Regions from separate parts of the Homo sapiens genome. Here region 1 is linked to region 2. Evidence: fine-mapped expression QTL. A gene starts in region 2. The other region holds a variant in brackets. All regions are shown on one strand. Distances are between the middles of the regions. Region 1 overlaps NFIC (nuclear factor I C). Region 2 holds the start of NFIC (nuclear factor I C).

The links.
Region 1: its variant is fine-mapped to the expression of NFIC in tibial artery (GTEx, PIP above 0.99). The same link has a PIP of 0.9 or more in esophagus muscle, lung and sigmoid colon.

Annotation. Positions count from the first base shown.
Region 1 is chr19:3,459,264-3,464,729 of GRCh38, reverse strand. NFIC (nuclear factor I C) reads right to left here. Exons shown (of 11, transcript NM_001245002.2): 11 at 1-1,978. The coding sequence ends at 1,961. Among named protein-coding and RNA genes, the nearest start is that of SMIM24, 19 kb to the left of the region's middle. RefSeq lists a silencer at 468-668 and enhancers at 1,120-1,655, 1,656-2,191. The variant A/G (reference allele first, on the strand shown) is at 2,683.
Region 2 is chr19:3,364,309-3,369,524 of GRCh38, reverse strand. NFIC (nuclear factor I C) reads right to left here and starts at 2,942. Exons shown (of 11, transcript NM_001245002.2): 1 at 2,859-2,942. The coding sequence starts at 2,888. RefSeq lists silencers at 1-162, 1,934-2,333, 2,624-2,773, 3,224-3,313.

The DNA.
Region 1 (5,466 bases), 95 kb before region 2:
TTTCTCTTTAGGAGCGAGCGGGTTCGCCAAGCTCCTGAGGCTAGTTTGGGAGGAGAGTCTGGTTTTCGGGGGCAGGGGGGTGAGGCTAGGAGCAGGTGAGACCCGGAGACCTGCCCTGGCTTTGGCCTGGGTCGGGGGAGGGGGCAGTGGTGGGGGGAGTTTTTCCCTAGGCATGGAGGTCAGTTGGGGCTGGGCTGGGTGGGCCGGGGAGGGGTCCTTGTGTTTGAGCTCGGTGGCCCTAAAACACCTAACACCCCCTCCCAGGCCTCCCCTAAAGATGGCGATCCTGGGGTGGGGGTGGAGGTGTGGATAGGGCCAGGGAGCCGGGGTGGGGGGGCACCTGGCGTCCCCAGCTTAGTGTTTTTGGAGCGGCTCAACGGAAAAACGCTTAGCAGATGGGAGGCCCCCTACACGGCTGCGGGGGGCCCCAAGGTGCGACGCCGAACCCCCCGAAAACCCTCCCCGTTCCGAGCGGGGACCGCTGGCGTCGGCCTCCTCTCTCCTCTGGGGGCCCAGCCGTGATGCACGTCCCGCAGCTGGGCCCCGCGTCGGGGTAGGCGATGAAAGTGCAAACGGCGGTCCCCCTTCGCTGGGAGGCACCAGGGAGGGGGGTCGCTCCAGAATGTAAGGCACTGGCAGCGGAGGCGTGGGGGGCGCACCGGCTTCCCCAGAGCCCACCCCCGCGCCCCGGCAGGGCAGGACGCTTGCGAAGTGACGCCCAGCTCTGCCCCTCGGGCCACGCAGGGGCCCCATCTCTCTAGCTCTGGGGGGGCACGGCGATGAGGGTTGACTGGAGGGGCTGGTGGAGAGGCTGGAGGGGAGGGGGAGGAGGCCCGCGGCCATTCCGTGTCCCAGCTGGACAAAGGGGGGGGCGGGTGGTGGTAATCAGGCACTTAAACCACTCGCTCTCACCTCCCACCGCCAGGGGCTGACGGGGGCGCTCCAGACGGGCACCCCCAACTCGGGGAGCTCTGGGTGTCCGGGCTCCCCCATCCCCTTCCTCGGAAAGTGCATTTCTTACAGTGTGTGCAATGTGGGTCCCTCCCTTTGGGGGTGTGAGCCGGGCGAGGTGGGGGGGCCTCCTATGCCGGGGGTGGGGGGTGGAGGGGCCGGGGCCAATTGCATAGAGACTTCTCCTCCCAAACGGGCGGGCGCGAGGGCTGAAAGAGTCCCCAGCGAGACAGCGAGTCGGCCGGCGCTTTGGGAGGGGCTTGTGGGGAGGCCCCGCGGCAGGCAGGGCCCCCTCGAGGGGCAGCAGGTGCCTGGGCCTCACTTCCTCCCCTGGCCAGGGCTCGCAAGCGCCACGCACCCCCGCGACACCACTCGCCTGCCCCACCCTGCCCGCCTCTGCGGTCTCCGCTGCCCGGCCGGGGTCCGCTGTGTCTCCCTTTCCCCCCAGTGGCTGCGTCCTCGGTGGGGGCTGAGGGGCCGGTCCGTGTCCGGCAGAGGCGCGGGGGCCCGGGGAGAGGTGGCCTTGCTGGGTGTCGCGCCTGTCGGCCCTGGGCACAGGCTCCAGGCTGTGCTCACCTGGTCTCCGGACAGAGCCAGGGCCTCCGGGGCGCGGGCGGGCGGCCGGCGTCTGTCCTTCCCGAGCAGCAGGCGGAGAGGAGATGAATAACTTAGGAAGACGCCCTGTCCCGGGTCTCCCGTGGGGGTGGCGGGGCCTGGCCCTCCAGTCCTGCGGCCTTGGCGTCCCGAGAGTTGGAAACGTTGCGTCTTTACCTTTTGTCTTCTTGCTTGGGTGGGTTTTTATTTCTTCTTCTTCTTCTTCTGCCTTTGTTTTTTCTTTTCCTCCTGAGTGTGTGCGTCTATGTGTTTTGTCTTTTTGGCCGGGCTGGGAGTCGGCAGGGGTGTTCTTGTTCACTCTAATTTTCCACCGAAAACGTGGGCCGGGGGCCGGCTGTGCTGCCCCCTGGGATTCCTGGGACGATGGAGAAGGGGCGAGGGAAGAAGACCTTTGCTATCCCAGATACCAGGACTGAGTGGCCCAGTGGCGACAGAAAGAGGGAGAGAGAAAAAGGGAGAGAAGTCGAGGGGTCAGACTCTGCTGCAGACATGGTTTACCTCTTCCCACGCTCACCCCCCACCTCCTGCAACCCTGTGACCTCAGTTTCCCCATCCCAGGCTCTAACAACCTGCTGGGTGACCCATGGCAAGTGACTTTGTCTCTGAGGGAGGCTTCCAGACACAGTACAGGATGCCCAGTGAAACTGGAGTTCTGGTTAACACAGAATTCTTTTAGTATAAGTCTAGCCCACGCAACATTGGGGATATACTTACACACCACACACAAAAGATCCATTTATCTGGAACTGTATTTTATATTTTATTTATTATTTTATTTTTTGAGATGGAGTTTCGCTCTTGTTGCCCAGGCTGGAGTGCAATGGCGTGATATTGGCTCACTACAACCTCTGCCTCCTGGGTTCAAGCAATTCTCCTACCTCAGCCTCCCGAGTAGCTGGGATTACAGGCGTCCACCGCCACACCTGGATAATTTTTGTATTTTTAGTAGAGATGGGGTTTCACCATGTTGGCCAGGCTGGTCTCAAACGCCTGACCTCAAGTGATCCACCTTCCTCGGCCTCCCAAAGTGCTGGAATTACAGGTGTGAGCCAGCACTCCCAGTCTGGAACTCAATCTTACTTTATTATATTATATTATTTATTTATTTATTGAGAC[A/G]GAGTCTCGCTCTGTTGCCAGGCTGGAGTGCAGTGGCATGATCTCGGCTCATTGCAACCTCTGCCTCCCAGGTTCAAGTGATTCTCCTGCCTCAGCCTCCCGAGTAGCTGGGATTACAGGCGCATGCCACCACACTCAGCTAATTTTTATATTTTTAGTAGAGACAGGGTTTCACCATGTTGGCCAGGATGGTCTCACTCTCTTGACCTCGTGATCCGCCCGCCTCGGCCTCCCAAAGTGCTGGGATTACAGGCGTGAGCCACTCTGCCTGGCCTTTATTTTATATTTTAAAAATTATTTTCTTCTCTATTTATTATTTATTTATGAGACAGAGTCTTGCTCTGTTGCCCAGGCTGGAATGCAGTGGTGTGATCTTGGCTCTCTACAACCTCCGCTTCCTGGGTTCAAGTGATCCTTGTGCCTTAGCCTCCCAAGTAGCTGGGATTACAGGCCCGCCCCACCACACCCAGCTAATTTTTGTATTCTTAGTAGAGACCGGGTTTCGCCATGTTGGCCGGGCTGGTCTTGAATTCCTGGCCTCAAGTGATCCGCCCACCTTGGCCTCCCAAAGTGCTGGGATTACAGGCGTGAGCCACTGTGGCCAGCCAATTTATTATTTTATTTTGAGACAGGGTCTTGCTCCGTTGCCCAGGCTGGAGTGCAGTGGTGCCATCATAGCTCACTGCAGCCTCCATCTCCTGGGCTCAAGTGATCCTCCCACCTCAGCCTCCCGAGTAGCTGGGACCACAGGTATGTTCCACCACATCTGACTAGTTTTTTTTTTTTTTTTGTAGAGGTGGGGTTTCGCCATGTAGACCAGGCTGGCCTTGAACTCCTTCCTCCCAAAGTGCTAGGATTACAGACATGAGCCACCACATCAGCTGCCTTGTTCACTTTATAAAGAGGTTTTTTGTTGATTTTTTGAGACAGCGTCACGCTCTTGTCACCAGGCTGGAGTGCAGTGGCACGATCTTGGCTCACTGCAACCTCTGCCTCCCGGGTTCAAGTGATTTTCTTGCCTCAGCCTCCCGAGTAGCTAGGATTACACGCATGCGCCATCACACCCAGCTAATTTTTGTATTTTTGGTAGAAACGGGGTTTCTCCATGTTGGCCAGGCTGGTCTCAAACTCCTGACCTCAGCTTATTCGTTTGCTTTGGCCTCCCAAAGTGCTGGGATTATAGGCATGAGCCACTGCACATGGCCTTGAGAATGTTTTTAAAAAGTAAACAAGAGGCTGGGCTCGGTGGCTCATGCCTGTAATCCCAGTACTTTGGGAGACCAAGGTGGGTGGATCACCTGAGGTCAGGGGTTCGAGACCAGCCTGGCCAACATGGTGAAACCCTGTCTCTACTAAAAATACAAAAATTAGCCAGGCGTGGTGGCACGTGCCTGTAATCCCAGCTACTCGGGAGGCTGAGGCAGCAGAATCGTCTGAATCCAGGGGGCGGAGGTTGTAGTCAGCCAAGATCGTGCCATTGCACTCCAGCCTGGGCAGCATAAGACTCCGTCTCAAAACAAAAACCAAAAAAACCAAAAAAAAACAAAAAAAAATTCTCCTCTTTAATGATGTCCCCGGTATCCCCGTGAAGGAGGGGGTAGGTCTCCCTCCACCGCTGTTTTGTGTGAAGAAAGTGAGGCCCAGAGAAGTCAAGGAACTTGCCCGAGGTCACCAGCATGGAAGCGGCAGAGGTGGAACTTGAACTCAGGCCTGTCTGGCTCTGGCTCTCATTTCTGCTCCTGCCCAGGGCCAACCCCCTCGCCTGCCTCTCAGGAATCCCCTTGGCATCTTCTGAGCACTGTCCTGGGCGTCCAGGGCCCATCCTGTCACAGGTCCCCCGGATGGCCCCCTCTTGCTCCACAGAAGCTCACTAAGCACAGGGGGGCTGAGGATGACTCTCAACCTCCCAGAGGCGGGAGACCGAGGCTAAGGGAGGGGAGTTCTGCATGGGGCTGTACCCAAGGTCACGTCATTTGGGGACAGCTCCGGCCTCAGTCTCTGCAGAGAAGCTGCTGTCCAGACCCCTGCCCTGGAAACGCAAACTCCAACCCCAGATGGAGCATCCAGGGTGGACTGTGAGGGGAGGGCTGTGCCTCTGGAACTGGGGAGACCCCTCCACTCCCCAACTGAGGTTAGAGGTGGGGCCGCCCCCCACCGCTGCAGCAAATCATTCAACAGAGCCCCTCCAACCAGGCAGCCACTGGGCCAGCCCATGGAACTGGCGCCACAGTGGTTCCCAGCGCCCCACCTCCAGCCAAGTTCAAGTTCATCTTGGCCATTACCTCATGTCTGGTTTCTGTTGGCAACCGACAGACTCTGGGCGTGACCCTCCCCGTGGTGGACCAGCCTCCCCTCAGCCCTTCCTCCCTCCTCCCTTCCCTCCCCTCCCCTTCCTGCCTGGCTGTGGCCCCAGCAATGGGGCGGGGGTGGGGTGGGGGCACCCTCAACTCCACATCCTCCCACTCAGCTGAGGGGAGACTGAGGCAGTAGGTGTGAAGGGGGAGGTTTGGGCTCTGGTATCCTGCTGGCCTGGCTGCAGCCGCCTGTGTGGCTCCCGGCATGTGGCTCAATGCCCGCCTTGCCCCCCACCCTCGGTTTACCCAGCTGCTTACGTGGGTTCCCGTGCAGGAGAAATGTAGGGGCGTGAAGGACATCACAGAGGGGAGGGGCCAGGGCGTCAGAGCCACCCAGCCTCACAGTGGGGGGATTGATAGGGACGGACATGGGGCGATGGGTGGGTAACTGACCAGGGCGAGATCAATTAGCATAGATCACGGGGAGGGA
Region 2 (5,216 bases):
CCCCCACCCCCCGCCAGCCTCGGCTCCCGAGAAGGATCCGGGTCGGATCAGCTAAAAGGGAGCTATTTTCGGTTGGGCTCAGGTTGTAAAATTAGCTGGGAAAAGGGGGAGAGGGAGGCCCAGAGACAGAGAGAGACAGAGAGAGAGGAGTAAGGAGACACATGCAGAGATAGAGAGAGACAGGGAGAGAGGGGGCAAGGGGAGACACGCAGAGACAGAGGAGAAAGGGAAGGTGAGACAGAGATGAAGAGACAGACAGACATATTGGAGAGAAACAGAGACAGAGAGGAAGGGGGCAGAGAGACAGAGACAGAGAAACAGACAGAGACACATCGGACAGACACACAAAGAAGGCAAAGGGAGGGAGAGACAGAGAGACAGAGACACATCAAAGAGACATGCAGAGACAAAGAGGAGAAAGGGATGGTGAGATAGACATGAAGAGACAGAGACAGTGGGAGAGACTGAGACATCAGAGAGACAGAGGATGAGAAAGAGAGACACAAAGAGACCAACAGTGACTGGGAGTGAAACAGAGGCGGGGAGAGACAGAGATGGAGAGACAGGGAGAAACAGACACACACACACACACACACACACACACACACACAGAGTCAGAGCAAGACAGAGAGAAAGAGAGAAAGACAGACAAAAAGAGACCAAGATGAGAGAAACGGAGGGGACGTGATTCGGGAAACTGAGTCAGGCAGCCAGGACTTGGGTGGGAGGCTCCTGCATGGGGCACTCAGGGTCCTTCTGAGTCCCCCAGCCCACCCCACTGGCTACCCCAGACCAGGCTGGGCCTTGGGGGAACAGTGGGGATTACATTCAGGCTGAAGACAAACTGGAAAGGGGGTCCCCAGCTCCACTACAGGGCTGGGGTGGAGGGCGGGGCAGAGAGGAGAATCGCAGGGGAGGAGGGAGCCCCCTGCACTTGGGACTCGCTGTCCCCACTCTGGCCTGGGAGCTCTCTGCCTCTGTCTCTCTGCCTGTCTCTGTCTTCTCATCTCTGTCTCTTGCACGCAGCACCCCTGGATAGTTTTTAGTTTTTAGCCTCTCCGTTTTTTGGTTTCCACAGACAGCCCTCCTGGCTGGTCCTTGCCCTGTTCCTGGAGAAACTGAGGCCGAGTTAGCAATTCTCTGAGGCAAAGCCTGGACTGGGGTTCTTACTAACCCCCAACCCACCCCAGCAACCAGGATGTCTCCCAACCAGCCCTGATGGGGGAATTCCAGGGTGCACAGGCAGCCTTCCAACCTCCCCAGCCTGGAACAGCCTCCCCTCCGCTCAGCCCTCCCAAATGGCTCCTTCCAGCTGGTGAGGACAGAGCGGGGACACCTCAGTCACCCCACAAGCCCAGAGACTTCAAAGGCTGCCCGAGGTCACACAGCGTGCCCACTCGAACCCTAGTTGTTCTTGGAGAACTTCAAAGAGATGCCTTCTTCGGGAACCCCCCCCCCAAAGCTGCTCAGAAAGGGAAACTGAGGCTGGGACAGGGACTTACCCAAGGTCACTCAGGGGATCACAGGTAGGACAGACCTCAGACCCCCTCAGCACCAGCTCCCACATTCCCTGTCGGCTGCAGGGGGCCGGTGAGAAAGACCCTACCAAGGAGCATGCCTGGCGTGGGGGGTCCCTCACTGCACCATGCCCTGGAGCGGAAGCCGGGGACTCATATACTCCCCACACAGTGCTTCTTAAGACGGGCCTGGCCCTCGCTGGAATCGCACCCCCCACGTGCCGGGACTTTACAGTTTGCCCGCCATACTGTCCCCTCTCCAGAACCGGCCTTAGCCGCACCTCACTTCAGGGGAAACTGAGGCCAGAACCTCTCCAGCCTAAAGACACACTGCGTAAGGAGGAAAGCAGCGGTCTAGAAAACGGAACTTGCAGACCTCGGGGTCCCCGGGAGCCTGGGCTGGAAGGAGTCCCCGGGGGGAGCCGCCCCCTCCCCACACACCCCCTCGGCCATTGCACAAGGCTCGGCCCCGGGGCAGTCTGGGAGTGCGGCCAGGGGTGAGAGGCTACGGGAGGGGGAGGGGGAGGGGGAGGGGACGGGGCAGGTGCCGGGCTGGCGAGGGCGTCCGCAGCGCCGCAGTGCCCGGGCCAGACCCGGAGCGCCGGGCCTCCCGCTCCTCCCGGCGGCGGCTCCAGAATCCAGAATCCAGAATCCAGAATCGATGCAGCGAAAATACCGGGACGGTGCTGGGGGGCTTGCAAAGGAGGGGGGACCCAGCCGGGCCGCCGGAGCACCCTTCCCCCTCCTGGGCCTCCAACTTCTCCTGCCCCCTCCCCCTCCATGCACACGTGGGCCAATAACGAGGGAAAGGCGACCGAGGGCCAGGGCGGCCCGCACAACCTTGGTGGGGGGACACGGGGAAAACACATGAGAGGTCCCTTTCTCTCCAGCTGGGGAGACCCAGGGTCCAATCACGACCCCCTAGATTCCTCTCAGAGGCAGGCGGGGGGCTTCCCGCAGAGCCCTTGCTGGAGGGGGGCCAGCCCCCACCCCGACCTTTCCGAGTGTCGGGGCGGGGGTGCGGAGTGCGTCGGTGTGTGGGGGGGGGACGCAAATCTGCAGACCAAGCCCCACATCCGGGAGAGGTCCCGAGAGTCGGGGTTGGGGGTGCTGGGCGGGAGTCCCGCGTAGGGGGTCCGCGGTAGGTAAGGGTGTGGGGGGGGTACCCCAGCCTGACCCATCCCCCCACCGGACCCCAGCCCTCGGCGCGGGGGGCATCCCGGGCAGGGATGGCGGGAGGGACGCGCGCCTTTTTCGTCCCGCCTCCTCCTGCTTCAAAACTCCGGGGCTGGGATGCGGGGGGCGCGGGGGCGCCGGCGGGGGGCCGGGCGAGGACCGTACCTGGGTGAGGCAGAGCGGGGACGAATACATCCCGGGCGCGGCGGGAGGCGCAGGGCCGGCCGGAGCGGGCGCGCTGAACTTACTGAGTCATTTTTCCAAACCACCCCCCCGCCCCCCCCAACCCCCCCCCCCGCCCCGCGGCCGGCGCGCTCTCCTCGCCGCCTCCTCCCTCGGTCTCCCTCCTCCTCCCTCCTGCTCTCCCTCTCTCGCGCCGCCCGCCTCGCTCTCTGTCCCTCTCTCCCTCCGTCTCTCTCTTCCTCTCTCCCCCGTCTCTGTCTCTCTGTCTCTCTCTCTACCCTCTGACACCCTCCCCCTCCCACCCCGAACCTCCCACTTCTCAACACCCAACTTTCAAAGAAACGAGGGAAAAAAGGGCGCGAGCGAGAAAGGAGAGCCTCCCCCGACGTCTCAGGACCCCCCCGCTCCTCCCGTATTTACGCAATGCCCCAGGGCACTAGACCAGGACCCCAGGACTGCAGGGCGACCCCAATTCGGATCAAGCGGAGAGGGGGGACAGGGTTGTTTCTGGACATTGAGGGGCCAGGGGTGGATTTTTAAGGCCCCCCCTCCCCACCCCCCCATCACCCCCGAGCTGGCCGGGAAGTTGGAGGAAAGAGCCAGGGGGGAGGGAAGGAATGAAGAAGTGACGTGCGCAGAGGCCGGCCAGCGCGCCTCTTTCCCCTTAAAGATGTACGACCCTGGGTGCACGGTGAGCTGGTCCCACAGCACCCTGGCTCCCTTCTCCCCCCAGAGCCAGGCAGGGGCTGCGGGTCCCCAGCTAGAGGGGCTTGTGTGCAGCTGTCCCTTCCTTGGCCAGAAGGGCCCAGGCTAACACGGGAGGCTCCAGAATTTGCTCTCTTCACCCAGCACCCAAGGGGCAGGGGAGGGGTGGCCTCGCCTGTGTGTCTCTCCAGCACCCCAGGAGGACGGTGTCCAGGCGGGATCTCCAGCTGGCCAGATAAACCCTTGCAGCCTCCCCCTGGGTATCCAATAATTTCCACCTGCCTCAGGGGTGTGCCCTTTTCACAGATCTCAAGACTGAGGTATGGCAAGTGTGGCTTGGAGCCAGGCCATCTGGACCTGGAGCCCACATTCTGTTCTCCTTCTAGACGTAACAGGGCAGAGACCTGGCCTGCCTCCGTCTGAGCCCCCAGGGCATCTGATGACAGGGCCCCAACCCTCCCCCGGTTCACTCCCTGGATCCTCCCAGGCTAGCTCAGAGGCTGCTGTGTCTCTCATTCCCATCCCAAGGGTTCTCCCCTATAAAGTGGCTTAAAGATGCCCATCCTGTGGGATTGCTGGGGATAAGGACAATGACCTTAGCAGAGCCTTGACCTTGGGTCAAATGTTCACTAAAGACACATTCTTAGAAAGCTTGGCCATTTCACCTCATCTCTCTGAGCTTCCCAAGGACAAATGATACCCTCTCACCAAGCTGGGGCAGGTGCCCCAGGCCCAGGGGCGCAGAAGATACCAGCACCCATTATCCTCAGGCATTACAGGAGAGGAAACTGAGGCCCAGAGAACGGAAGCCACTTGCCCAGGGTCTGACAGGTAAACTAGGAGGGAGCAGAATTCCTGCAGCGTAGGTTCCCTAGGCCCCCCACAGGCTCCCCTCTGCATGACGGTGACATTATTCAAACAGTGCTTAGTACATCACGAACGGTCCATAAATGTGTGTGTCTGTGTATTTTAAACCCACTGTGCAGCTGTGGGGAGCATTTGAATTAAATGGTGAGAAGTGTATCTGGAAATCCACATACCAATATAACGTGAAGCAATTTATTTTATTAAAACACGCTAGGGACACATACAGGGTGAAATCTAAAATTCACAGATATTTAAAAGTTGCAGTTGACTTCAGACACTCCTCCTAGACTTCCAGACCCCGTGCCTTCCACCCTCCCTCCCCTGTACAGACCACCCTGCCTGCAGCCTTCATTCAGCAGCTTAGAATCCTTTGGAAGGTGAAGTTTAGAGAGCAGAGACTGCCCCTCTTGGAACCTCGGTTTCCTCATCTGTAAAATGGCTATAGTAACAGGATGCATCTTGGGAGGTGGGGAAGGTTGGAGTCTTTACATAGCATGTGGGAAGGCTGTGTGAATATTATTGGTGGCGGTAGCTGCAGGGAGAAACTTCTGCAAGTGTACGAACAGCAGCCTATATCCCAGTTTGGGTGGCAAGGGACCCCCGCAGCACACACAGTTGGTTCCCTAAATTGCCGCGTGGGCTCGCTGCTTGGGTCTATGTCTCCTCCAGTCAGCAGCTTCGTCTCTCTGCACCTCGGCTCTCCCTCTGTGAAATGGGGCGACGCCAGCTCATAACCCTCCAGGTTGTAGGCAAGTCAGCAAATACCTG